Homo sapiens: one gene and its partners. The protein of the gene in region 3 purifies or fractionates together with the protein of the main gene of each other region. This does not show direct contact. Each region holds a gene or a part of one and is shown on either strand. Other genes may lie near its edges.

Evidence for each region. The genes of interacting proteins can lie anywhere in the genome.
Region 1: the proteins of KLHL20 (region 3) and POLDIP3 purify together in Homo sapiens (affinity purification with mass spectrometry; 3 studies listed by BioGRID and IntAct, with this or other methods). This does not show direct contact.
Region 2: the proteins of KLHL20 (region 3) and RPRD1B purify together in Homo sapiens (affinity purification with mass spectrometry; 2 studies listed by BioGRID and IntAct, with this or other methods). This does not show direct contact.

What each region holds. Positions count from the first base shown.
Region 1 is NC_000022.11:42,590,879-42,597,899, forward strand, and holds part of POLDIP3 (polymerase delta-interacting protein 3), read right to left. Parts: intron 5,488-7,021; coding exon 5,308-5,487; intron 4,737-5,307; coding exon 4,659-4,736; intron 1,207-4,658; coding exon 1,077-1,206; intron 1-1,076. UniProt on the Homo sapiens protein: Is involved in regulation of translation. Is preferentially associated with CBC-bound spliced mRNA-protein complexes during the pioneer round of mRNA translation. Contributes to enhanced translational efficiency of spliced over nonspliced mRNAs.
Region 2 is NC_000020.11:38,028,904-38,036,750, reverse strand, and holds the start of RPRD1B (regulation of nuclear pre-mRNA domain-containing protein 1B), read right to left. Parts: upstream 3,006-7,847; 5' UTR 2,804-3,005; coding exon 2,653-2,803; intron 2,646-2,652; exon of another isoform or gene 1,346-2,645; intron 1-1,345. UniProt on the Homo sapiens protein: Interacts with phosphorylated C-terminal heptapeptide repeat domain (CTD) of the largest RNA polymerase II subunit POLR2A, and participates in dephosphorylation of the CTD by RPAP2. Transcriptional regulator which enhances expression of CCND1.
Region 3 is NC_000001.11:173,710,108-173,717,986, reverse strand, and holds the start of KLHL20 (kelch-like protein 20), read right to left. Parts: upstream 3,007-7,879; 5' UTR 2,909-3,006; exon of another isoform or gene 2,517-2,908; coding exon of another isoform or gene 2,333-2,516; intron 1,985-2,332; coding exon of another isoform or gene 1,944-1,984; coding exon 1,921-1,943; intron 1-1,920. UniProt on the Homo sapiens protein: Substrate-specific adapter of a BCR (BTB-CUL3-RBX1) E3 ubiquitin-protein ligase complex involved in interferon response and anterograde Golgi to endosome transport.

The DNA.
Region 1 (7,021 bases), on a different chromosome or scaffold from region 3:
CCGGCCAACATGGTGAAACCCTATCTCTACTAAAAATACAAAAAAATTAGCTGGGCTTGGTGGCGTGCACCTGTAGTCCCAGCTACTTGGGAGGCTGAGGCAGGAAAGCCGCTTGAACCGGGGAGGCGGAGGTTGCAGTGAGCTGAGATCACGCCACTGCACCCCAGCCTGGGCAACAGAGAGAAACTCAAAAAAAATAAAAAAATAAAAAAATAATAAAAAATAAAAATAAAAAAAAGAAAGAAAAAGGAAAATAAGTATCTTTCCACATCCAAACATATGACAAAAAATAAGAAAAAACAAAAAAAGAACAGAAATTCAAAACAAAATTAATTTCTTTAATGACATACAAATGGCCAATAAGCACATGAAAAGGTGCTCAACATCATTAGCCATGGGGAAATGCAAATCAGAACTCCACTGACTCACCCAGGGGAGTTCACCCAGGTGCCAAGATTTAGCCAAGGCTCCAGGTCTTTTATTTGTAATTTTTTTTATTGTTGTATTGTTTTATTAGTCTCTGCTTCTCCACTTCTAGCACAGGGCCTTGGTCCACAGTAGGCACTCAATACATACTGAAAGAACAAATGAGTGGAAAAGGAGCATGGCAGACAGAATTCTTCTCTACAGGCTGTCTGGAGATGAAAAATATGAACCTCAAGTCAATAAAGTCTGTTGTTTACCCACCAGGAGCAGCTCTCACCCAGGTGTCAACATTCAGACAAAACTCCAGGGCTGGGAGGAACTTCTGCCCTAGCACTAAACAGATCAACATCTGGGAGGCAACAGCTGTGCCTCTTGGCTCCCCTGGCAAGACCCCTTAAGAGAACCATCCATGGAGAAATGCTGTTTTCCTTTTTGCTGGGCTCAAAAGCTTAAGGGCTGGGTGAAAATCCAGGGCCCTGTGTAACCCACAGCTCAGGACTACTCAGAGACTGCACGGCAGTTCCTGGTGCAGACGAGGCCCCAGAGATGGGTTCCACCCATCTCACAGAGACTTCCCCTGGAAGGCCTGCTACCTGACAGCAAGTAGAGATGAGTGGGAGGGTCAGGGGACTGCTTTCTCCCTAACTTACCGTCCAGACACCGGTTGTTGTACTTCTTATATGCGGTGATGGCATCGTCCTTTTTCACAAACACCACCTCCGCTACCCCAGGATGGACCAGTCGAGCTCGCTTGAGGGCCCCACACACACAGAAAAGCTCCTGCACACAACAAGAGGGGTTGGGATTGGGGAAGGATTTCTCAGCACCTGCCGCTCACACACTCTGAAGGCCCTGGGGTGTGGTGGTTCCGCTGCAGCTAAATGCGCCCTGCGCCTGAGACTGCGGGGAGGCTCCACGCGAGGTGGTGCTCTGGAGACATCCACAGGCTTCAACACAGCACCAGATGAGGTCAGCAGTGGGAAAGGGGCTGGGTTTACAAGCCTTGGATCACCTGGGATCTCCCAGCAAGCCACCACCAAAGTCTTCAGTGCCCACCTCAACAGGGATAAAACAGTTATGAAAATTTTCGCAAAGAGCCCTGTCATTAGAATACATGTATACAAAGAAAGACAGCTGCTAATATGTCACCTGAGAATCTGTTACAAATACAAATTCTGGAGTTCTACCCAGAGTCCTGGTTTGGCTGGACTGAAGGGTTTCCCTGGACATGAGACTTTGAGTGATGAAACCAGGAGAGTCCCCAGCAAAACAGGGACAGTTGGTCACTCTAAGTCAGACCTGAGTTTGATCCCCCAGGCTCTGCTTTCTATCTGCTATGAGACGTCTAGCAAATTACTTAACTTCTCTGAGCCTGTTTCCTCCTCTGAAAATAAAAAGGACTAGCTTACTTCCCAGCTTTACTGGAAAGCTCAACTGAGATAATTTTTAAGGCAGTGCTTTGCACACATCATTGAGTCCGATCTCCACCTCATTTTACAGACAAGACGACTAAGGCCAGAGAGGGAGCAAAATGTGAAGATGGACAGAGGCTGACTAGCACTCACGCCATTTCTTCACCTGCAACTGCCTTCACAAGGTTGCTGTGAGGGCCAAAAGAAGGTTTATGAAAAGGTCCTTGACATGGTTTGTTTTTAATGGTAAATATCAAAACAAGATGCCCCTCTGCACCTGCAGGAGACTGGTTCCAGAACCGCTCGCAGATACTAAAATCTGTAGATGCTCAAGTCCCTGCTATAAAATGCTGTAGTATTTACACATAACCTATGCACATCATCCACTATACTTTAAATCATCTCTAGATTACTTATAATACCAAATACAATGTAAATGCTATATAAATAGTTATACTGTATTTCTAAAATTTGTATTATTTCTCATCATACTGTTATTTTTAAAAATTTGAGTATTTTCATTCAGTGGTTGGCTAAATCCACAGATGCAGAACCGACAGATATGGAGGGCCAACTATAAATAGTAGGTGTAATTCCAATTTTATTACCATTGTCCTTTTAACATTGCCTATTTGGGTAGAAGAGAAGCGAGGGTGATTATTACTAGCAATTTCCCCTGAGCACTGATCATGACTGGTGTTTAGTTTTCCACCATTATGTATCTTCCAAGAGTCTGCCTAAAGTGACTGGCACATAGCAAGTACTCAGTAAATGGCAGTTGTTATTACGCTCCTTAACAGCTTTAATTCTTTTCTTTTTTTGAGAGAGTCTCACTCTGTCACCCAGGCTGGAGTGCAATGGCGTGACCTCGGCTCACTGCAACTTTCACCTCCCAGGTTCTAAGTGATTCTCCTGCCTTAGCCTCCTGAGTAGCTGGGACTACAGGCACGTGCCACCACGCCTGGCGAATTTTTCTGTTTTTAGTAGAGACAGGGTTTTGCCATGTTGGCCAGGCTGGTCTCGAACTCCTGACCTCAGGTGATCCACCAACCTTGGCCTCCCAAAGTGCTGGGATTACAGGCGTGAGCCACTGCACCCGGCAATCAGCTTTAATTCTTAATGACTTGTCAAGTATTACACAAAATAGGCTACAATTTCCATCCTCACGTGCACCATTCACAGTACTGTCCCTGCTAAAGGAGAAGGAGATACGAGTGACCCATCTCACGGCATGCGTGTGTTTCACAATTAAGATTTAACCTCAGCTGGGCACAGTGGCTCACACCTGTAATACCAGCACTTTGGGAGGCCAAGACAGGCAGATCATGAGGTCAGGAGTTCAAGACCAACACGGCCAACATGGTGAAACCTCGTCTCTACTGAAAAATACAAAAATTAGCCGGGTGTGGTGGCACACGCCTATAATCCCAGCTACCAGGGAGGCTGAGGCATAAGAATCACTTGAACCCAGGAGGCGGAAGTTGCAGTGAGCCAAGATCGCACTACTGGCACTCCAGCCTGGGCGACAGAGCAAGACTCCATCTTTAAAAAAAACAAATCGAGGTGGGTGGATCATTTGAGGTCACGAGTTCGAGACCAGCCTGGCCAACATGGTGAAACCCTGCCTCTACTGAAAATACAAAAATTAGCCAGGCGTAGTGGCAGGCGCCTCTAATCCCAGCTACTCGGGAGGCTGAGGCAGGAGAATTGCTAGAGCCTGGGAGGCAGAGGTTGCAGTGAACCGAGATCACACCATTACACTCTAGCTTGGGTGACAGAGTGAGACTCCATCTCAAAAACAAAACAAAACAAAACAAAAAGATTTAACAAATGTAGTGACCAGTGCAGTCTGTTAGTCTGGGACTTAACTGCAGGGAGAGGCTGGATTCTCCAAACGTATTCATTTTGTGATCTGACAGTTCAAAGGATGCCTGGATTTCTAAACTAATGGCTCTTTTGGGTGCCTGAATGAAAATGATGTTGAAAAGAAGTCCTAGCTGCATCCAGAACCCCGCTCACAGACATTTGACAGGTTTTGCCCATGACTGCCATGGGTGGGACGGGATGGACCAGGAAGGTGGATACCACCAATCCATCTCACTTCTTTCACTTTGGAATCATCTTGTAATACCTCCAAAGGACACAGGAAAACACAACTATTGGATACTGCCCAGTGGGACTAAAGGATCCCATTTAGGACCCATTATAGCATAGATATCCCCTGACTCTGAGATTCAGGCCAGGCACCTGGCCTTGGCTAGAAGCTGTGCAGAAGAGTGAAGCAGCTGGGCTGACTGCTATTGTTTGAAAGGTCCGATTCCAGGGGTGGCCCTTGGCTGGCATCTGAGAACTCGGATCTCAGGAGGGCTCCTGCCACCCCACAGTTCACTGTGCCTGGACTGTGCAAACAACATGGTTTCTGCTCAACAGCTGCTTTCCCTCTGGGAGTCTGGAATTTTAGTACATGCTACACAGAGAATGCCGAAGTGACCAGCCCCCAGTAAAACCTTTGGGTACTGAGTCTTTAATGAGCTTCCCTGGTGTCACATGTATTGTCACAACTTGCTGCGAGTTGCACCCAGCATCCTGTGCGACTCTGCTGGGAGGGGCCTCTGGAGGCTTGTGCCTCGTTTCCCCCCGACTTCACCCCATGAGCCATTTGCTCTGCATCCTTTTGCTGTCATTAGTCTCAGCCCTGAGCGTGACTATATGCTGAGTCTGGTGAGTCCTAGCAGTCATCAAACCTGAGGGTGGGTCTTAAGAGACCTTTGCCACAGAGGCAGTTTGAGATTTAAATGTTTGGTAGGTCACAGTACTTACAACAATGTCCTCCTCAGTGACTCGAGGGTGCAGATTATTCACAGTCATCTTGGTGCCTTCCAATGGGCTGAGAACAGGCTGCCACACAGACAAGAGCATTACCAGAAGCCAGATGGCTGATAAGCATTCCCACAACAGAAATTCCTCCAGGCACGTGACTAGGAAGGCCCAGAGGAAAGCTCCATGGAGAGTTACCACAAATGGGCCCCCTGAACTTCAGTGTCCACTACACCCCCCATCACTCTATGCTAAAAGCATGGACCCTCTCCCATCTCCCAAATACGCAAGCCTCTCAGGCCCTGAGCCTCTACCTGGAAGGCTACTCATGCTTCCAGACCCACTCAGCTAAAAGAGCCCTTTTTCCCAGACTTCCCAACTGGAATGAGATAATCTGTCCTCAGCCCTCCTAATAGCTTTCTTCTGAGAGAGTCTAACATATCACCAGATACCGCAATCTCTCAGCAGGTCTGCCGTCCCCACTAGCCTGCAAGGTCTTTGAGGGTAAGAGTCCCTAGGTCTTGGTTTGCTCATCTGTAGAATGGGGGTGGCAATGCCCACCTCACAAAGGCGTTGTGGGGAACACAATGAGGTACATATAAGCATACAGCCCTCCTGACCCCAACTGCTGCAGTCACCACCATCACCTCACCTCAGCAGCTGGCAGCTCTTTGGGGGGTTCTTCCTTGTTCACCAGTGTCCGGGACATGTTGGTCAAGGCTTTTGTTCGAATAGAGGAAGGGAGAGCAGGAGCTGTGTATGCATCATTCTGAACCACTTTGGTGAGAGGGAGGGCCTTGGACATGGAAAGCTTGGAACTGCTTAGCCCAGCCTAAACGAAGAGACAGAAAAGAATCTGAGAAGCCAGACCTGCAATGTTCTGAAGAAGCCCCAAGAGGTTGACAACTTGCTGAGAGCATGAACCCTCGATGCCTCCCAGCTCTCTAATTCTATTAGAGGTCTGGAGCCAAAAAGGCTGCCGGCTGCCAGTGACATCCCATAGGGAAGGGGCAGGGGGAGAGAAAAACACACAGCCTGAACGCGCACTCACAGAAGCCACTCCCCACAGTGCTAGAAGCTCTTGGCAGGAAGCTTCCATACAGCCCTGACCTGGAAAATTACCCAGGAGCCACAGGCTCACCCACACCACTTAGACTTTCTAAAAATTCTACAATATGAGGCTGGTCAGAAGGCCAAAAGCTTGGCCAGGCATAGTGGATCACATCTGCCATCCCAGCACTTTGGGAGGCTGAGGTGAGAGGACTGCTTGAGGCCAGGAGTTCAAGACCAACCTGGGCAACACAGTGAGACCTCATCTCTATAAAAAATGTAAAAGAGCTGCTCTGCCTGTGGAGTAGCCATTCTTTTATTCCTTTGTTTTCTTAATAAAGCTGCTTTTGCTTACAAAAAAAAAAATTAAAAGGCCAAAAGCTTGAGGCCAAGTTCATTCCCAGATATGCTTCTATCACAATGTGCTGATCACCACTCTTAAGAAGGCCCAGAATTCAGTGTTTTGGTTCCTCTTCTGGCCATCCAGAGGAACCACACACAGCCTTGGCCTCATCAGCTCCGACTGTCAGGGACACTCGGGCATTTGGCAGTGCAGATCACCAAAAACAGCCCCTCCATCTGGATGTGGTCCCTTGGAAACAAAACTCCCCTGTATTAATGTGTCTGAGGAAAAAGGTGCATAAAGCAGAAGTGACGGGGGCCCTGCTGATTTAGGGCAGTGTTTACAGGCACTGACCCAGGGCAGGGAGAAAGGAGGAACGCAGCGGCCAGAGAGGCACATCAGAGCATGGGCACGGGCAATTCACCACGCTCCTCCAAGTCTGGGTGAAGCAGCGTCATCCCCATGCTGAATTCCACATTCCTCATGTGGAATTCTGCGTCTCCAGAGCTGGGACAGCACAGTGACTCCACACAGGGCCCTGAGAGCGAGACTGCTCGGGCTCCATTCCTAGATCCACTGCTTCTCATCAGCTGGGTGATGTTGAACAGGCTTATTTCACCTCTCCATGCCTGTCCCTCATCCATCAACGAGGGTAATCAACAGTACCCATCTCACAGGGTACAAGACGCATGAGTATAAATATGGCATTTATTCAATTAGGGTATCAAATAGGGATAGAGACTCACTGAGCAAGCTGATAGTTCCCTTGATAGCAGACTTGAGCAGTCTAATTACTGGAAAGGCCTGGTCCCTTTGTAAAGAAACAAACTGGCATCATTCAGCTTCACGACCTCTTTTTTTTTTTTTTTTTTGAGACGGAGTCTCGCCCTGTCACCCAGGCTGGAGTGCAGTGGCGCAATCTTGGCTCACTGCAACCTCCACCTCGGGGTTCAAACAATTCTCCTGCCTCAGC
Region 2 (7,847 bases), on a different chromosome or scaffold from region 3:
CAGATAGAAAACATTGCTATTATCACAGAAAATTGTATTAGATAGCGCTGTTTATATCCTTTATGCTGCTATCATAGAAAGTTGTATTGGATAGCGCTGTTTAGATCCTTTACTCAACCACGAAAATTCTATCAGAGACCATGATTTAATTCCTATTTTTAAACTATATAACAGGCACCACGCGATATCCTGTGGTGTTGCAAATAAACAAGAAGGTCTAGTTCCTCTCTCAAAACATAATCTAATGACAAAGATGTAACCAGTTCAAATGAACAGCTAGTAGGAACAAATTAAATGCTAAACTGGTATGATGGGGTGGGAGGCACTCATTAATTCTAATAAATGAAAGCACCACAGTTTGATTGCAGTCAGGTGACCACCTTCACTTATTAAATGCATTGAGGCACTGAGTACATGAAAAAGAACACATTTTGGCATCAGGCAGCCCTGGGCTCATGTCCTAGCTGTATGTCTGTGGACAAGGCACTTAATCCCTCTATACCTTTATCATCTCATCTATAAAATGAGGATAATAATGCTAGCCTACTTGCAACATAAGGCTTTACCACGTAAGATTAGGGATAACGGAGCTTCATACACAAATGTACTCTCTAATTTGCTTTTTTTCAGTAACTCAACTAGGGTGAGGCAAGGAATCAAGAAAGTGTCACAAAAGAAGTGACACTTGGCCAGGCGTGGTGGCTCACACCTGTAATACCAGCACTTTGGGAGGCCGAGGCGGGGGCATCACAAGGTCAGGAGATCAAGACCATCCTGGCTAACACAGTGAAACCCCATCTCTACTAAAAATACAAAAAATTAGCTGGGTGTGGTGGCGGGCCCCTGTAGTTCCAGCTACTCGGGAGGCTGAGGCAGGAGAATGGCATGAACCCGGGAGGTGGAGCTTGCAGTGAGCTGAGATCGCACCACTGCACTTCAGCCTGGGTGACAGAGCGAGACCCCCATCTCAAAAAAAAAAAAACAAAAAAAATGACACCTGAGATGGACTTTAACTGCCTCTTGAGGTCCCACCCAATAGAATTCTGTACAGTGGCAATTCACATTTCAGCACACTCTTCAAATAATTTCTGAATGGCACAGTGGGGTACATGAAGAAGGCCCCATAAACTCCAGGCTCTACCTCTTCCCGGAACTGCCCGAAGGGCTGAGGGGATCCCTATCTCAGTACAGTACGCGATATTTGGGGGCAGTCCCTGCTAAAGGGCTAGAACTGGGTCTCCTGAAAAAAATCATGAAGATTTTGGTGTTTGCCAGCCTGTTGTAGTCTGAGCCTGTTCAGTTCGAAAGCCTTGAAAATACCACTTAGCCACTTCAGTTTCCTCACCTGTAGAGCAGGACATCTGTGGTGTCCCCAACTCACAGATAGTATAGAACACTTGTAAAGCCACTTCGCTATAAAGGCCTACCACATATAGGGTGTCTGGAGCAGCTCTGAGCTTCATTTCTTCAGTCTTCCATTATGAAACTCATCCGGGAGTGTAGGTGTCCATCTTTCCCCACCAGACTGTAAGCAACTTGAAGGTAAAGACCATGCCTCACAGTGAGTAATCAAAAGTCTCATCTCACCATAATCTGCTGAATGCCTACACTGTGCCTCACCCCATGCTAAATGTTCATTTGGATTATCCCGTTTACTCCTCACCACGAGATGAGTCTCAGTTTTTCCTCTTCTGCAAAGTTCCTACTTCATAGGGCTCCGAGAATTTTTTTTAATGGCAATGTATGTAAAGATATCAGTACTGCACTTCGCATGTAATAAAGACATAGTAAATTTCAGTTATCCATTCTGTAGATAAGAAAATTAAGGCACAGACAGGTTAAGTTGCTGGGGTCAGTAAGGCGGCAAAGTCAGGCTTAAATTCTAGGCAGTTGGCAGAGGCAACATGCTGCAAGTGTCCAAGCCAGTGCCTGGCACATAACAGAATGAGTTCAATGAATTGTCTGTCAGAACCTGAGCAGGGCCTGAAATCAATGACAACTGCATGAGAGAGGAGAGGAGAGGAGAGGTAAGGTCTGGGTGGCCCCTTAACCTAAGATGGGAGAGACTACCTACTTCACAGGGCTGTTCTAAGGACTGAGTGCGAGGATACACACAAAGGTCTTAGTATAGTGACTGGTATGAAGTAAAGGCTTTGTAAGGGGTAGCTATCCTTGCCTCCCTCTTACAGATGAGAAAACGGAGACACAGGGAGATGAAGAAACTCTCCCAGTATTATTCAGCTGGCAAATAGCTGAGCCAGGACTCGATCTGCAGAGTCTGACTCCGGAGCCCACTGGCTTTTACTCCAAATACCCAGCACTGGGCCCGACATGCTAGGGCCAGTACGGCAGTGAATGCAGCCGAGATAATAACAGCCACAAATGTCAGGGGGAAACTGAAGGGAAAATGGCTTGATGAACTAGAAGTCTGGACACCTGAGTCCCAGTCCGTGGACCCTCAGGCAAGTACCTTAAACCTTCCCGGGCCTCAGTTTCCTTCTTCGAGAAATGGGGCTAACTTTGTCTCCCATCTCAGAAGCTCGATCAGGCCTGGAAAGCAAGGCTCAATGAAGAGGCTTAGAGGGGCCTAGGTTGTATGTGGGCGAGAGGACAATCCGGGGACCGTCCAGGGGGTGGGGATTTGGTGTTTACCTTTGCGGAGCTCGCGGTGCCACACGGAGACGATGGGTCCCGCGTGCTTGCGGTGGTGGATGAGCCAAAGGGACAGGGTCTGCACGCTCTGCTGAGAGTTGCTCAGCTCCGAGAGCTTCTTCTCCAGCGCCGACTCAGAGAAGGAGGACATGGTGGCGGCAGTGAGGCCCGGCAGGGAGCGGCCTGGGCCGCCCAGTGCGGCGGGAAGAGCGACGGCACGAGGCCGGGGCCTCACCTGACAGGCTGCGGGACTTTTTACCGACTGACAGACTGCCAGGGGTGCGAGAAGGGGGAGGGGATGGGTCTCCGCAGTAACAGCCGCCCGCGCCGCCGCCACAAGATGGCCACCCGACCTCTCACCCTGCCGCGAGAGCGAGGTCAAAGGGCAAGGGCCGGAGCAGAGGGGCACCGAGAGGCGTCGGAGCTCTAGAAAACCGTCCCTTTGGAGGCGGCGGCCGCTCTGAACCTCGCGCAGAGCACTTCGAAGGAGACAGAGCGAGGCAAGGAGAGTAGTTCCCCGGGCCCCCGGAAAGAGCTTTGACCGCTCGAGCCTGCACACCGGCGCAGTGGATCTCGCCGGAACCCTTTTTCCCGCTCCCTCGGAACCTTTCTGGCGCGATACGGCGCGCTACTTAGCGCGTCACTTCCGGCGAGGCAGAGGAGGCGGGAGAGTGAGAGAAAGGCTGGAAGACGAGGTAAGGGAAGAGTGGCGGGAACCAGAGGGAGCCCAGCAGCTGGGACCCTGTAGAGGGGTATCCTGAGGGGACATTGAGTCTGAGAGATCATGATCTGGATATGGGAGGGGGATTTCCTTTCTAATCTGGCGGGCCCCAGGCCGCATCTTTCCTCCATATGTGTTCGGCTCTCTGGCTGTCCCCCAAAACACTTAGTTTTGGTTCTTCCAAGCCACCCACGTGCCCTTTTCACGCCTCCACGCCCTGGCGCTCGTTCTCTGTCCGAAAGTGACATCCCCTTTCTCACCTGGTGAGCTCCTACTCAGCCCCCCGGAGCACCCTTTAATGTCCTGTTTTGACCTTTTAGTCTGTAACAGCGCCGTCATGAAACACACATTTGGGCTCTCGGCTCTTAAGTGGGTTCTCACTCAGGGTATTATTACGTGCTGCTTTTGCCGTCTGCGGGTCCAGTTGACTTTTTCGAACTTAAGTGAGGTGTTAACTTTAGGGAAAAGGTGGAGGGAACTAACTTAGCCTTCCCAATGTGTCTGTTGACCTCATGTTGAGACACACTATTTGAGGCCTGGCGCAACGTCTCTTGCTTGTAATCCCAACCCTTTGGGAGGCCGAGGCGAGAGGATAGCTTGAGGACTGGAGTTCAAGACCAGCCTGGGTAACAGCGAAAATTAGCCAGGCATGGTGACGCTCACCTGCAGTTCCAGCTACGCGAGAGGATACCTTGAGCCCAGGAGTTAGAGGTTACAGTGAGCTATGATCGTGCCACTGCACTCCAGCCTGGGCGATGGAGCGAGACTCTTCTCTGAAACAAAACAAAACACTATCTGAGACTCTAAACCTTGACCCTATTTTTTTTTTAAGTTTTAAATCCCAGGTATCAAAGCAGCAGAGAAATTTTGTTTTTCTTACTGCCACGGGGGTGATGGTAGGGAGTTAAGTTATAGACATAAGAGGGTTTTAAAATTTCCTGATCGTGGTATAACTTCCTAGTTGTGGGCAGACTCTAGTTTAGGAGACGTTCTTCTAGTTGATGCCTGCTTTTGCTCTTATTGCACTGTATTGCAGTTCTTTGCTTACATGCTTTTACCCTTCCTCCAGACTGGAATCATAATCATAGCTAACGCAGTGAGAGGTTACTATGTGCTAGACACAATTCCCACACAGTAACTCATTTAATCCTCACAACAAAGCTGTGAGGTATTATATTATCCCCCTTTGGACAGCGTAGGAAACAGGCTCAGAGAGGTTAAGTGACCTACCCAAGATCACATTACTAAGACTTGAGGGAAGGGGCTGCAACTTAGCCATCTTTTTGGCCCCAGTTCCTGATTTATCAAGTGAGTTAGTGTAAAAGAGGTGAGTAACCTAAAATCATACAGTGAGTATCTAGTCATAACTGAGGGCTTTTGTGTCGAAATCTAGATCATCTTTCCATATTAATAACACTGTCATATACTGAGCACTTTTATACCAAGTCACTGTCTATTAAGCACATTACATACTTTTTAAATTTAATTCTTACATCAGTCTTAGGAGTTGAAATTATTACAATCACTATTTGATAGACGAGAAAATGTAAAGCATGGTTAAGTACCCTATGTACTTGGACATAGTTAGGAAATAGCAGAGCCAGGAGTCAAATTAGGGTTATCTTATGTCTGATCCCAAATTCTTGCCTCCTGAACCAATAGTTTATTCATTCATTCGGAAAATAATTTTTCAGCACCTATGTCCAAAGCACTCTTCTAAGCTAACAGACAAAATCCACGTTCTCAGGAACTTACTTTCTACTGAGAAAGATAGAAAAACAAACATGCAAGTTTAGAATAAGTCAGAAAGTGGTAAGTAACTTCAATAAAAATCAAGGAGATAAGGAGGATAAGGAATGTATATGTGTAGGTGGGTAGTCTTTTACTTATGCTTCTCAGAGAAGGCCTCATTGATAAGATGTCATTTGAGAGACAAGCCATATGCCATTGTTCCAGGAAGAGGGAAAACCAAGTTTATACCATTGTTGGCATTTTGGAGCAACAGCAGAGAGGACAATAAAGCTGGAGTGATATGAACTAGAAGGGTGGCTGGAAATTAGTTCAGAAAAGTACGAAGGGACTGCATCACATGGTGACTTGTAGGCAATAGTATAGACTTTAGATGTTACTCTGAATGAAATGAAGTCCACTGGGCAGTTTTGCACAAAGAAGGAGCATTGTGGCTGTTAGGTAGAAAATAAGACAGTAAGAGTGCAAAGGTAGAAGCAGGAAGGACCAGTTTGGCAGCTGTTGTAGTAACCCAGGTGAAAGGATAACTCAAACCAGGGTGGTATCTGTGGAAGTGGTAAGAAAGGGACAGTTCTGGGGATATTTTAGAGGAAGAGGTAACAGGATCCGCTGATAGATTGGATATGGGGTGTGAAAGACATATGAGAGTTGAGATAGCTCCAAGGGTTTTGGCCTAAGCAACTATAAGAATAGCGCTTCCATTTACTGAATTACAGAAAAGAGTGGGTTTGGAGAGTAAGAGCAAGCATTTGTATTTGGACATGTCCATTTGGAAATGCCTATCTGAGTATAGATGTCTAAGGGGCAGTTGGGTTTATGGGTCTGGAATTCAAGGAAGAGCTATCTGGGTTAGAGATAAAAATGTGAGAGTCATAACGGAATAAGGTGTAAAAAGAGACTGAGTCCTAGGATTCTTCAACATATAGAGGTCTGAAAGGTGAGGATGATATGATTATGTGATTTTTCTTCTTAAGCTTGTTAATAGCTTGTTAGTATTAACAACTCTAATTGATTTTCAAATATTGAGCCAGTCTTGCATCTCTGAAATATACCCCACTTTATCATGGTGTGTGTGTGTGTGTGTGTGTGTGTGTGTGTGTTTTACATACTGCTGAATTTCCTAATATTTTCTTTAGGATTTTTGCATCTATACTCATGAGAGAAATTGGTCTATAGATTTTTTTAATTTTTGTATTGCCTTTGGTTTGGTATCAGGATAATACTGGCTTTATAAAATGGATTGGAAAGTGTTTCTTCTTTTTCTAGAAGAGTATGTGCAGAATTGGTGTTAATTCTTCATTAAATGTTTGGCGGAATTCTCCAATGAAACCATCTTGGTTTGGAGATTCCCTCCACTCCCTGCTTCCCTCCCTCCCTCCTTCCTCCTTCCTCCCTCCTCCCTCCCTCCCTTCCTTCCCTTCTTCCTTTTTTTTCTGGAGTTTTTAAGTGACAAATTCAGTTTATTTAAAAGTTATAAAGCTGTTAAAATAATCTCTTTCCTATTGTGGTTGTGTTTTTTGAGGAATTAACCACTTCATCAAAGTTGTCAAATTTATATGGGTAAAGCTATTTGTGGTATTCCCTGTCTTTGTTTTCTGTTGCTTATAACAGAATACCTGAAACTGGGTAATTTATAAAGAAAAAGGATGTATTTCTTACAGTTATGGAGGCTGAGAAATCCAAGGTCACAGGGCCACATCAGGTAAAAAACTTTCTTGCTGGTGGGGACTCTGCAGAGTCCCAAGGCAGTGCAGGATATCACAGGGCCAGGGGGCTGAGTGTGCTAGCTGAGGTCTGTTTTGCTCTTATAAAGCCACCAGTTCCCATGATAACCCATTAATCCATTTATGAGGGCTTATAAAGACTCCACTTCTCAATACATTGGGAATTAAATTTCAACATGAGTTTTGGAAGGGACGGATATTCAAACCATAGCATTCCCATATTACCCTTTGATGTCTGCAGGGTCTGTAGTACTGTCCCGTTTCATTACTGATATTGGAAATTTCCAGTATCAGTGTCTCGTCTCTTCTCTCTCCTCTCTCTCTCTCTCTCTCTCTTGCTCACTCACTCCCTTGTCAATCTTGCTAGAAGTTTGTCAATTTTATTGACCTTTTCAAAGAACCAGTTATTTATTTCATTGACTTTCTGTGTTTTCTGTTTTCAGTTTTGTCAGTTTCTGCTCCTTATTATTTCTTCTGCTTGCTTTATTTTGCTCTACTTTGTCTAGGTTCTTGTGGTAGGAGTTTACCTTTTTCGTTTGAGACTTTTCCCCTTTTCTAATATATGACTTAGTACTATTAATTTACATCTCAGCATGGCTATAGCTGTATCCACAGATTTTGGTGTGTCATATTTTCATTTTCATTCATTTCCCTATTTTTTTTCTAATTTCCCTTAAGGTTTCCTCTCTGTTCCGTGGATTATTTAGAAACATGTTGTTTAGTTTCCAAGTATTTGGAGATTTTCCTGTTATCTCTGTGTTAGTGATTTCAAGCTTGATTTCATTGTGGCTGGGGAATGTCACTCTGTATGATTTCAGTTCTTTTAAATTTGTTGAGGTTTGTTTTATGGCAGGATAATCATCTGTCTTATGTTCTATGAGCACTTGAAAAGAATGTGGGCTAGGCACTGTAGCTCATGCCTGTAATCTTAACACTTTGGGAGGTCAAGGCAGGAGGATCACTTGAGCCTAGGAGTTCAAGAACAGCCTGGGCAACATGGC
Region 3 (7,879 bases):
AGCAATGGGAGAGTTAACTTTTCACTGAATATCCTATTGTATCTTTTAAATTTTGCATTGTGCTATGCAAATGATAGTACATAAATAAATGAGGTAATGAAACTTTACTAATAAAATGCCAATTGATTTCATAAAACTTTATAATCAAAAATTAGAATACCTTTAACAATAATTTTCAGTCTTGTTCATAGATTTTTTTTGTTTTTTGGAGGGGGAAAGTCTGCAGAAACTGTTCAGTCCTATTCAAACAATTATTCAGTAATCGTTAGGTGCTAGTGATGCAAATATAGGAAGACATGAGACTAAAAGAGCTCACAATCTAGTAGACAGAATGAACATGTATTCAAATAGTCTCAATATAAAAAGTTACTTCTCAAAGCTTCTTTAATAGCAACTGAGTATAAACCCAGCATTACAGAGACTGCCTTCTGGGTTAAATCAGCAAAAATGACAGCCCAATAAGAAAAGGATAGGGAAGTGTGACCATGATTGAATGTAGGAAGCAGGTGAAAGTAAGACCAGAGACCAATGTGAGTAGGCTAGGCTCTGGCCAAGTGACAGTGATGAAGAAAGAGCCGTAGCTTAACGATTAACAGCACTAGAATTATCCAGCATGATTCTGAATAGCTGACAGTATTATGTAATAAAGCAAGAAAAAAGGAGCAGGTATGAGTGATTAAGCAAATATTTTATATAGACTACTGATAAACCAAAAACATTCCCACACTCTGCTATTCTTTTAAAAAATAATAAGCTCTTATTTTAGCAATTATATAAGATATGACATTTTATGGTAGCTGGAGATGAGACACAATCAGTGGGTTTTGCAATAATGTTAGAAGTAAAGGGATGAAGTATTTAATATTATGTTGTTAATTTTTTCATGTACATTGTGGTAAAATATTATTCCTACTACAGAGTAAAATATAAATAAGATAATGGTATTTTTCATCTTGATAACATCTTTTCATCTGGAGATCTTAAAGCATTTGCAAATGTTCATTAATCCCCAATATCCTGATCAGATACACTAAAGAAGTAAACTGGGGTACAGAGAAGGTGAACAGCTCAAGGTCAATTGATAAACCAATAACAGATTTGGATAAAGATATACATTCTGGTTCTTGCTCCAAGTTCTGAGTTATAAGTCATATTCCCATTATAAAATGTTTCTTCTCTTAAAAGAACTGCAGAAGTTGTTTATCTTTGATGTTAAATAACAAATGATTAAATAGAGTTCAATAAATAGAAAACAAATGTAAAAACCAAAGAAATAGAACTGGGATGATTTTGTATCATAAAGATTCTAGTCTCATTTGTTAGAACAAAATGAGAAAAAACATTATTAAATTCTAGGGTTGGGAGGGCCTATTTATTGTCTATATTTTCCCAGACATTGTTCTATTTTTCTATGGACTAAGTTATTATGTCTAATACCTATTTTAGTCCTTATACAATCTTCCCTACAATGCAGCTATTTTAATTAACAGAACAAATGTATGATTGAACATCAAGGAAATAACCAAAACCATAATTAGGCATGCAGTACAGTATATTATAAATAATTATGATTCTTACATGGGAACAGAATCCTCTACATTTTATAGGGAACTGAAGATTATAATAAATCCATATAGTATCATAATGAACTTAATGATTATTTACTGTAAAAAACATGAAAAAAGGAAAATTTAAGTGTTTAGCACTACATACAATCCACAGCACTTTTCAGAAACAACTTCTGTATTTTATTCTATTAAAAAGCTATTAATTCTTAATATTACTTTTGATTTATTGTAGAACAAGACTCATTAGTTCCAAGCAGAATTTAGTAAGATTGAAACTCTTTTTTAAAAATTTAAATTATTACATGCTGAATTTTAATCAGTGAAACCAAAGGTTTTCTTCCTAAATGCCTACCTGCGCATTGGCTTTCCTTCCATGCACCATGAAAAGTACCCTTCACCACACTCTAAAGCCGAACCTAAGACAACAGAAAAGCAGGAACTTAATAAAAGCTATTTCTGATCTTTACAGTAACAATCTTTATATAATCATTTCACTCATTTCGTCAGTTATCAAGAGTTTCATATCCTATTATACCACAGGCCTTCTGCAGATGCACAATAACTTAATCTAGTACATTTAAGATTACCATCCTTACTCTGCATGCTAAAACGATTAAAGTAAAGGTGAGGGAAAGTATGCTAAATAGTCCCGACTGTTAGGTCAGTCTTGTTTCTCTTCAAAAAGTGCTTGGAGATATTTAACTGTGATCTCGACATCAAGTATATTTACAGAACAAGCACCAGATACCCACAGCAGTACTAACCTGATAGATCACATAGGGTACACGAGGCTTTAATAACGAATCTGAAGATTGTTAACTTGTCCCGAAGTGACAGGAGGAGGAGGCGTCTGCATTTGCCTTTACAAACAACTCCGCTTCCGACAGTCCAGGGAGCTTGAACAGGGCAGGGAAAGTATGGCTCCAGACTAACACTCTTTACAAGCATTTCCTTCAGTCCCCGATACAATGTTCACTACCCACGTAGCAGGATTTCGCCAGGTCCCGAGGGTTAAATGGGGGCGCACGTACTTTCTTCCTTCCCTGAATTCCAAACACTGTCTGGGGAAGCTGTCCAGGATGCGAAACCCCAGCACCACCAGGCAGGACAAAGCCCGGGGCCTCCTCTGGCTCCCGAGATAGGCTGTCAGCCAGCGAGAGCGCACTCTGGCGCTCCGCGAGGCCCGGCCCCAGCGCCCCAACAGTCTCTTCTCGGCGCCGACTGACAGGCGACCGACCTGACCCCATGGGGCAGCTCAGCAACTTGGGACCACATATCTGCGAAGCGAGCCCTGGGGCGCTGTCCGCTGTCCCCTGCTCTAAGGTGACTGGCTCACTTACCGGCTCTGACACTTTCTTCTCTGCAGCAGCCTCCTCCGTCTACTCCGCCCTCCACTCCTCTCTGCCTCCTCCTCCACCGCCGCTAACGCAGGCAGGATGCCGCTCGTAGAGCTATTTCCTTTCCCTTCACCGGCCCATATCCAGAAGCAGGAAGTAGTCCTATTCTTAAATCGTTCCCGCAGGAACCCACATAATCCGCCAAGGGGTTCCGGTGCGGCTCCGGAAGTAGTCGTGCCCTTTGCTGGGGCATTCAGGTAACCTCAGAGGTTGTTTATCCTCGTGGGGGTTCCTTGTATCCCAAGAGTAACCATTTTTAGAATTCACTGCGGAACTGGCAGTATTTGAATACTGAAGCCTCCTCTTTTCTTCTTTGTTTTCGCCAGCAAAGGCAGTAAAGGGTAGTCACAGAAAGCTAAGAATTTGTATTTCTTTTTAGTTGGTGGGTCTCCTTTTGGCACAATGTTCCTAATTGTGGATTGAATTATTGCATGCACACATGGGTTGGCATGTATCTGTCAGGCCTCTACTATGTGCAAGGTGCAGAAGTTAGATAGACAGACCAGAGATAGACCTTATCCTCCAGATTTCCCACGGTCAAACTTTCAGGACACCAGGATTTTATCCAGGCTCTAAGGCTGTGTTAGTCTGCCCTTTCTACTTAGTATTCACCACCAGACACTTCACCAAACACATCTTCTGTGGATTCACTTTAATGTTAAGGAGGGAAGAGTATATTTTCTTAAAAAAATTTTTTTTCAGTAGCAAGCAGAGCCAAAAAAGTATATTTTTAAAATTATCTTTTCCTCCAGATTTTCCCATAGCACACAGCCACCTGATTTTTACCGTATATTAATATTTAGAAAACAAGTGATACAAGTGTAAGGTGGGGATTACAATTTCAGGAATATCAGAGAAAGACTGTTGCTGATTTCCTGGTAAGTATACTAGGCTAAGTATTAACCAGATTTTCTTTAGCTGTTCTTTATGTAGAATCTACACAGGTGTGTCCAGTTGTTTCTGAGGGGAAAGGATACCTCTTGTTAATTAGCTTGTAGTGGAAAATACATGGCCTTTAGATCCAGATATAGTGGCCCAGTGGATTCTTCTTGCCTGCTGCCCAGATACAGATGATTTATCAAGGTATAGGGATTGCAATGGAGAAAGAGTTTTACACAACATCGAGTGGAAAAATGGAAGAAGTTTTATTATTACTCAAATCAGTTATATTATTACTCAAATCGGCCTCCTGGAGCATTTGGGGGCTAGGTTTCTTTTCAAAGGTAGTCTGGGGAAAGGGGTAGGGGTGGCTAGGCAATGGGTGCTTGCTGCTGACTGGTGCAGTCATAGGGGTATGGGAGATGGTCCTCCTGCCTACTGAGTTGTTTCTGGGTGGAGCCACAGGAACAGTTGGTGGGTCCAGGTGGAGCCATCAGTAGTCAAACATGCAAAAAACTTAAAAATATACCCAAAAAGGCCAATCCTAGATTCTACAATAGTGATGTTATCTGTAGGAGTAATTGGGGAAGTTGCATATCTTGTGACCTCTGGAATAATGGCTGGCAATCACTTATGTCTACACTTAACAGAATTCAGGCTCATCTATCCCCGTTGTCTGGTGGTCTCTCATTAGCTTTACAAAGGCAATTGAGTTTTGGGGAAGGACTGTAATTATTTAAACTATTAAACTAAATGTCTCCCAAAGTTATCTTGGCTTAAGCCCAGGAATAATTAAGGACAGACTGAAAGCTAAAGGCAAGATGGGGTTTGGCTAGATCAGATCTCCTCCACTGCTATAATTTTCTCACTGATAGAATTTTTGCAAAGGGGGTTTCAGTTTGCAAAGGCGATTTCACGGATACACATAGGTACAAATCCTAGACCTGTAACTGACTAGCTTTGTGATCTTATTGAAAATTTTTACTGCATGTGTATATGTGATATATATACATATGCAGTAAAATGATTTCTTTTCCATATTTTAAAACTTTTCATAAATGGTATCAAAGCATATGTATTCTTTTGCAACTTCCATTTTCCACTCAACATTCTGTTTGTAAGATTTGTCCATGTTGATCAATGAAGGTCCAATTCAGTGATTCTCAAAGTGTTGTCCTGGACCAGCAGCATCAACATCACTTGGAAAATGCTAACCCTTGAGCCCCATTACAGACCTATTGAATCAAAAACTGAAGGTGGGCCCCAGTAATCTGTGTTCTAACAAGTTCTCCAGGTGATTATAGTGCATGGTAAAATTTGAGAACTACTGCACTAATTTATTTATTTTCACTGCTTTATAGTATTCTATTATATGAATATACCATAGATTTTTTAAAACATTTTTTTCTGCAGATGGATATTTTGACTATTTCCAGTTTTCTCCATTACAAACAGTGCTACAATGTAAATTCTTGCATATACCTCCTTGTGTACACCTGTAGGTGTTTCTTTGGGGTGTGCACGCAGAAGCAAAATTGCTGGGTTGTATGCTATGCACAGCTTCAACTGTATTAGCACTAGTCAAATTGCTCTCTAAAGTCATTATTCTATTTCAGTAATAATAATACTAGCAAATACTTATGTAGCATGTTATAGTAACTCATCAATACTCACACTAGTCCTCTCGAGGTAGGATCTATTATCATCATTCCAGTTTCACAGATGGCACCAAGATGTTATGTAAGTTGCCCAAAGTCACACAGCTAGTTATGAAGTAGAGCAATAACTTGAAACCATACACAATGGCTCTAGAGTCTGTGCTTTCAGCTACAGTGCTGTGTTGTCTCTCCATTACAAGTGTTTGAGGGTTTTTGTTGGTCTATATTATCATCACAGTTGGTGTTTTCCAACTTTAAATTTGTTTTTGCCAATTGGTTGGGTATAAAATGGTAATTCACTGTGGTTTAAATGTTTATTTCTCTCATTACTGTTCAAACATTTTTCATATGTGAAAGTGGCATTCAGATTTCCCTTCTGTGAATTGCTTATTGTAAAAGATACCTTCAAAGTGACTCCTATTTTTTCCGTAATATGAATTAAACTATTTTTATAATTCATAGTATAGGTATGAAAATGTTACTATATGGTATAAAAATGTTACTAAAAATGCTGCTAACCAAAGACTGATTTTAAAACTCCTGTCCAGGATAAGAGCAGTCCCTCCTATTTTTGTATATCTGTGATTCACTCCCCAACCCACTGCAATCTGGTTTGTGCTTCTGCTACTCTGTTTCTTTTTGAAGTGGAGAAGTTCAGTGTGAATCAACCCTTTTTATTTATGTCAAGACCTAGAGAACTCCATTTAGAGATGTGTTTATGGTAAACCTGGCATTTGCAGTAATTACAGTTTTTCTGCCACCTGAGTAAGACTATGCCCTTCGGGAGCCTGAATTTCTAGTGGAAAATACACATGAAATAGATTTTATTTAGATTGGGTGTGTGAAAGGAAAATATCTTGGGCCCCCAAAATCACTAAGCTAAAGGGAAAAGTCAAGCTGGGAACTGCTTAGGGCAAACTTGCCTCCCATTCTATTCAAAGTCACCCCTCTGCTCACTGAGATAAATGCATATCTGATTGCCTCCTTTGGAAAGACTAACAGAAACTTAAAAGAATGCAACAATTTGTCTCTTATCTACCTATGACCTGGAAGCCTTCTCCCTGCTTTGAGTTGTCCCACCTTTCCAAACGGAACCAAAGTTCATCTTACATATGTTGATTGATGTTTCATGTCTCCCTAAAATGTGTAAAACCAAACTGTGGTCTGATCACCTTGGGCACATGTCATCAGGATCTCCTGAGGCTGTGTCACAGGTGCATCCTCAACCTTGGCAAAATAAACTTTCTAAATTAACTGAGACCTGTCTCAGATTTTCGGGGTTCACAGGTATGAGGTAGTGACAACAGCCAAATAATTCTTTTCAGGGGTTGCTGAGCTTACCTTATAGTTTTTCAATCAAAAATTATATCTTGTTTCCAATGTATAAAATACAGTGGTTGGACCTAAGGTTTAGTTGTAGGTGAGACCCACAGGGCCCATTGTTTGTGGAATTTTCATTCTTCTTCTTTTTTTTTCTTTTTAAGTAGGGTCTCAATCTGTTACCCAGGCTGGAGTGCAGTAGTGCAATCACAGCTCACTGTTGCCTCTGCTTCCTGGGCTCAAGTGATCCTCTCCCCTTGTTACAGTAGGTGGCTAGCCAGGCATGTGCAAGGCAGGAGAGGGCTTCTCCCGCACCTCACCAGGAATGTCAGGTGACCATCGGGTGATGGTCAGGCAGTTGTCACGCTGCCTCTCTAATATAATAATTGGTTGCAAACAGCACCAGGGAAAGGCAGTTTCCCAGTAGATAAAAACACCTGAAACTGGTGGCAGCGTCTCAATAAGATCTCAGGAATTGGGTGAGTGGGCTCCAGCATGTGCATTAAAGGGCAAAATGGCAGAGTTTAGCTGGTATATGACCTTCCAGGGGCATTCCACCAGAATGGGAAGAACGCCTCAAGTGAGCATGTGTACAACTCCAGTAAACACACTCTGCATGCTCCCCTCCCAGGCACTAGCAGGCCATTGCACATGCGGACAACCCACCCCAAGGGAAGAATCAGGGCAGAAGGGATGCAAGACCCCAGAAGCATGCCAGCATATAAAATGCTAAGTCAGAAGGTCAAACTTCACACTTGTTTTCAAGTTGCCTGCTTGGACCTGTTCCACATGTACTTTCCTTCCTTTGACTCCTGCTCTAAAACTTGCCTCCATCTCTTCTGCTTCATGCCCCTCAGTCAAATTCTTTCTTCTGAGGAGGCAAGAATTGAGGCTGCTGCAGACCCATATGGATTCACCACCGGTAACAACCTCAGCCTCTTCAGTAGCTGGGACCACAGGAGTGTTCCACAATGCCCAGCTATTTTGTTTGTTTGTTTGTTTTGTAGAGACGAGTTCTCACTATGTAGCCCAGGCTGGTCTTGAACTCTTGGGCTCA